Linked DNA regions of Homo sapiens: region 2 is linked to region 1. Evidence: fine-mapped expression QTL. A gene starts in region 1. The other region holds a variant in brackets. All regions are shown on one strand. Distances are between the middles of the regions.

What was found.
Region 2: its variant is fine-mapped to the expression of FRRS1 in monocytes after LPS (Quach 2016, PIP 0.95).

Annotation. Positions count from the first base shown.
Region 1 is chr1:99,764,785-99,767,704 of GRCh38, reverse strand. It overlaps FRRS1 (ferric chelate reductase 1), which reads left to right and starts at 1,070. Exons shown (of 17, transcript NM_001361041.2): 1 at 1,070-1,098.
Region 2 is chr1:99,742,803-99,745,722 of GRCh38, reverse strand. The region is part of intron 4 of FRRS1 (ferric chelate reductase 1); the gene reads left to right. Among named protein-coding and RNA genes, the nearest start is that of FRRS1, 22 kb to the left of the region's middle. RefSeq lists a silencer at 316-610. The variant A/TTTTA (reference allele first, on the strand shown) is at 1,659.

The DNA.
Region 1 (2,920 bases):
GTGTTGAGTAATAATAGAACTCCGGGCTGGGCGCGGTGGCTTATGCCTGTAATCTCAGCACTTTGGGAGGCTGAGGCAGGTGGAATCACTTGAGGTCAGGAGTTCCAAACTAGCCTGGCCAACATGGTGAAACCCTGTCTCTGCTAAAATACAAAAATTAGCCGGGCGTGGTGGCGGGCGCCTGTAGTCCCAGCTACTGGGGAGGCTGAGGCAGGAGAATCGCTTGAACCTAGGACGGGGAGGCTGCAGTGAGCCGAGATCATGCCACCGCACTCCAGCCTGGGCCACAGACAGAGACTCCGTCTCAAAACAAAACAAAACAAAACAAACAAACAAACAAAACAAAAAACTCCGGTCTCCTGCACAGCCAGCTCTGCGTGAATTACTCTTTCTCCATTGCGATTCCCCTGTCTTGATAAATCGGCTCTGTCTAGACAGCGGGCAAGGTGAACCCACTGGGCAATTACAATGTCACTCAAGGTCTGAAATGGAATGTTTAATATTTTCAATTACATTAAAGAGAAGAAAAAAAGTAAAAAACAGGAAAACAAAAAACAAAATAAAAACAAAGATTGTTAAAAATTCAATTACATTGTCTTTTCCTAGCCCTAAAATTTTTCTTTTGCAAAAGAGTCTTGTGAAACAGATTAAAGGCTTAAAAAGAAACAAAACTCCTAAATTTCAGGGGTAATTTGCAAAATAAAAGATTTCTTTTGCATTATATCATTCACACTGCAGAAAGGTTTCGGTTCTATGCAATCTGATCTTTTTCCACTTTTTAAAAGTTAATTTGCTTTTACTTAGCACTATTATAGAACAGGTATTTTCAAATAGTTTTGCAATTAAACACAAAAACTATAATTTTTGTGGCGAAGTAGGTACTAGTTGGCAAACACTGTTCCTTAGTGTAAAACAGAATTCTAAGTTTTCAGAAATGGAGTCCTAAAACTAGCACTGGTCTTGCAAATCAAGTTCTGCAGCTTAGTTTGGGAAAGGTTCCCTTTTGGCTCAAGGCTTAACTGGCTCCACCCAGCTGCTGAAATGTGATACAAGTTGTAACAAAACCGGAAGTTGGTTAGGCTGCCTTCGCTTCTCAAGGTAAGTGTCACGTCTTTTTCCTTAATGTCAAAGCTCTTTGTAAAGCGTTAAAAATCAAATCCAGCTTAGCGACAGACTGGAGAGCGAGTGCCTGTGCTGACCAGGGCAGTCGGCCAGGCAGAACGGGTGCTGTATTCCGAAACTATGTTCTGGAGCTTGAATTGAGCTAATGAGTGTTCACTAACGAGTTAGGTTAATATGTCCTGTGACTTTGACTAACAAGCTTTAATTCCAAGATATGGGTGGTTATAAGTAGAGACGTGTTTGGGATCCTGAAAATCATTGACTTTATTCTTGCAGGAGTTTTTTTTTTGTTTTTAATTTTAAATTTAAAACTGTAGGAACTCTTTTTTTATATTTAAAGCTAGTGGCATGGTTACCTATATCAGGGTCACTTAGAACCTTATTTGGTTTTTAAAGTGGCTTTTTATCTAGAACTTTTAGTCCCCTTACCCTCCCACTCCCTAGCCCTGGTGTGTCGTTAAAATTTCAGAAAGACTCCAGGGTGGCAAGGTGTTATCACTGCACTTATTTTTGTGTGTGCTTGTCATACTGCCCTAAAGGGTAAAGGGGATTTTTCAAATTGTAAATGTGTTATTAGGAATATTTCTTAACATAGCTAAACTTTTCAGTTCAGATATTTTCATTTGCTTCTGTATTTTTATTTTTTATTTTTATTTATTTATTTATTCATTTATTTTTGAGACGGAGTCTCGCTCTGTCCGCCAGGCTGGAGTGCAGTGGCGCGATCTCGGCTCACTGCAAGCTCCGCCTCCCGGGTTCAAGCGATTCTTCTGCTTCAGCCTCCTGAGTATACTGCTGGGATTACAGGCGCCCGCCACCACGCCCGGCTAATTTTTTGTATTTTTAGTAGAGACGGGGTTTCACTGTGTTGGCAAGGATGGTCTCTATCTCCTGACCTCGTGATATGCCCGCCTCCGCCTCCCAAAGTGCTGGGATTACAGGCTTGAGCCACCGCGTCTGGCCTATTTATTTATTATTTTCGAGACGGAGTGTTGCTCTTGTGGCCCAGGCTGGAGTGCAACGGCGGGATTTCGGCTCACTGCAACCTCTGCCTCCCGGGTTCAAGCAATTCTCCTGCCTCAGCCTCCTGAGTAGCTGGGATTACAGGCAGGCACCACCACACCCGGCTAATTTTGTATTTTTAGTAGAAACGGGGTTTCTCCATGTTGGTCAGTCTGGTTTCGAACTCCCAGCGTCAGGTCATCTGCCTGCCTCGGCCTCCCAAAGTGCTGGGATTACAGGCGTGAGCCACCGCGCCCAGCCACTTCTGTATTTTTAAAAAAGTGGTAAGATTTGAGTATTATACTGGGATAGAACTGAAGTTGGGGGCTTAATTTGATCTATCAGCTTATTGAAAACAAAGACCTTTTAAGAGATGGTTTTGTTAGGTTGGAGAAGTGAGTTTTAGTTCGTCATTTAGTTAGCCAGTATGTTGATTTTTTTGGTGAAGTGTACTCTCTGTTTCACACCTGTCAGCTTTTTTAATATTGGATTTTCTCAAAATTCACATAACAATCACACTGTATGAGTACTGTTTTGAAGGTTGTCTGCTAGTCAGAATGAATGGAGATCAATGTGTAGGACACCTTTACTGATATCCAGAGGTTTACCAAAAGACAAGTCACCAAATGTGGCAGAAAAACATGATAAAATTTATTAGGAAAAACTAAAGCTTATGGAGTGAACAGTTATTTCAGGTTGGTGGAATTAGGCAAGAATCCAAGAAAGGAAGACAGTTTTATATGGGAGACTTTGTTAATGGTGGTCATTGTGCTAGATATTTTGGAGATAGTATTTT
Region 2 (2,920 bases), 22 kb after region 1:
CAAACTATATCAAATATCAATAGAACACTTATTTATTTAGAGACAGAGTCTCGCTCTGTCATCCAGGCTGGAGTGCAGTGGTGCGATCTCAGCTCACTGCAGCCTTTGCCTTCTGGGTTCAAGTGATTCTCCTGCCTCAGCCTCCTGAGTAGCTGGGATTATAGGCGCCCACCACCATGCATGGCTAATTTTTGTATTTTTAGTAGAAATGGGGTTTCATCATGTTGGCCAGGCTGGTCTCGAACTCCTGACCTCAACTGATCCTCCCGCCTCGGCCTCCCAAAGCACTGGGATTACATGCATGACCCACCGTGCCGGCCAAAAGAACCTTTAAAAGGCAGTCTTTTACTGGCAAGGTGCTTCTTGTCTTCAGAGGTAAAACGTCCATGGAGCCAATCCAGACAAAGATTTCTTATTGTCCAGGACTTCTTGTAGTTAACAACCAAAACAGTGGCAGCTGATGTTTATCTTCTCCCTTCAAGGCTCGGGGATTAGCAGCCAGCAGCTTTATAGGTAAGAGCAGTCCTGATCATAAACTGACTGCATTTGCACAAAACAGTAGAGATAGCCTGCTCTTTCTTGCCTTAAATCCTGGTGCTTGCTTCTCTTCTTTACTAATAAGTGACTTTGTGGCATTAATTTCCAAAATCGGGTACTTCTGTCTGCATTAAAAACCTGTTAAGGCAGATACACTTTCTCCTCAATGATTTTCTTTTCTTTCTTTCTTTTTTTTTTTTTTTTTTTTTTTTTTTTGAGACGGAGTCTCCCTCTGTCGCCCAGGCTGGAGTGCAGTGGCCTGATCTCAACTCACTGCAAGCTCCGCCTCCCGGGTTCACGCCATTCTCCTGCCTCAGCCTCCCGAGTAGGTGGGACTACAGGCGCCCGCCACAACGCCCGGCTAATTTTTTGTATTATTATTATTATTGTTATTATTTTTGGACGGAGTTTCACTCTTGTTGCCCAGGCTGGAGTGCAATGAAGGGATCTTGGCTCACCGCAGCCTCCGCCTCCTGGGTTCAAGCGATTATCCTGCTTCAGCCTCCTGAGTAGCAGGGATTACAGGCATGTGCCACCACGCCCGGCTAATTTTGTATTTTTAGTAGAGATGGGGTTTCTCCATGTTAGTCAGGCTGGTCTTGAACACCCGACCTCAGGTGATCCGCCCGCCTTGGCCTCCCAAAGTGCTGGGATTACAGGTATGAGCCACTGCGCCCGGCCTTTTGTATTTTTAGTAGAGATGGGGTTTCACCGTGTTAGCCGGGATGGTATCTTCAATGATTTTCTTAATGACGCCTGGGAACTTGCCTGTTGCCTCTTGGTCAATAGAAGCTGCTTCTCTTGTTATCTTGACATTTTAAAAGCCAAACTTTTATTCTAAATTATCAAACTATCCTTTGCTGGTATTAAATTCTCCAGCTTTAGACCCTTCACCTTCCATTTGCTTTACGTTGTCATATAATGACTTTGCTTTTTCTTGAATAATATTAGTCTATAAGTATCCCTTTCTTACAGCAATTCTTACACCTGCATAAAAGCTGCATTTCCGATATGAGATGAAAAGGTCTTTCACAAAAAATGTGAGGTTTTTGCATCTGTTGGCATAGCTGCAGTGACAGCTTTACGAATTTTCTTTTCTTTTCTTTCTTTTTTTTTTTTTT[A/TTTTA]CAATCGTTCTTATACTGGATTCATTTATCTTGATATGGCGGGCAACTGCAGCAGCAGACCTTAATCTACAGTATATATCAAGCAATTCAGCTTTTTCTTGTAATGTCATGAGTTTTCTCTGCTTCTTGAGAACTCTTACCGCATCACTAGTGGCACTTCGTATGGGCCCCATGGTGTTATTCAAGGTTTACAGTAGTGCACAAAACACGATAAAAGCTGGGTGCAGTGGCTCATCCCTCTAATCCCAGTACTTTGGGAGGCTGAGGCTGGTGGATTGCTTGAGCTCAGGAGTTTGAGACCAGACTGGGAAACATGGCGAAACCCCGTCTCTACAAAACAATACAAAAATTAGCTGAGTGTGGTGGCATGTGCTTGTAGTCCCAACTACAGTTAATTTTATGCAGTTATGATTTAATACTGCATTTTTACATTTGTTTATATGTCTCTGTGAATGGCACATGTGTGGTCTGTTTGTGTATGTATGTTTTGATAAATTTTAACTTTTTGTGATAGGTGTGTGCATATTTTATGGTAGTAAATGATAAAATAGACTAATACCTATATATTTTGTGCATTTAAGGCATACCTAACTTTTTAATTTTTTCAATATTTCTAGCCTATGCAGTTTGTCTGAGTTTTTTCAAATTGTTGAAAACCTCCAAACGCTTTTCTAATATATATATTGAAAAAAAATCTGTATATAAGTGGACCTATGCACTTCAAACCTGTGTTGTTCAAGGGTCAACTGTAGTTTGAAATTGCTCTCTGTCAGTTTTTTTTGGGGTTCTTTTCACTATAAGGTGGTGGTTGCAAGATAAATGATGACATTAACCATGTATTGTAAACATCTAAATGGATTTACAACAATCAGACTTTTTCCTTAATTTTATGTGCAATATGTTTTTACACATCAGCACCCTATAAAAGGTAAAGTAGTTTGAAGAATTTATAGCTTGTGATGTTTTATATGAATATTGGCTCTTAATTATATTAATTTTTGAAGGGTTTTAATATTGAAGACAGAGATCTAGAGTATGACAGGAGTCTAATTTTTTTTTCATTTATTTACTCATTCATCCATTTATTTTTACACCAAAAATGGTCCTGAATGGGAGGGATAGGTGATGGACAAGACTTACTCTTGCTCCTTGAAGAACTCCTTACTTTACATATAAGCACATCTATGAACACATAAGTAGAACCGTGTGATAACTTTGGTTAGAAGCATACACAGTGAGTGGGAAGCATAGCAGAGAGAGCC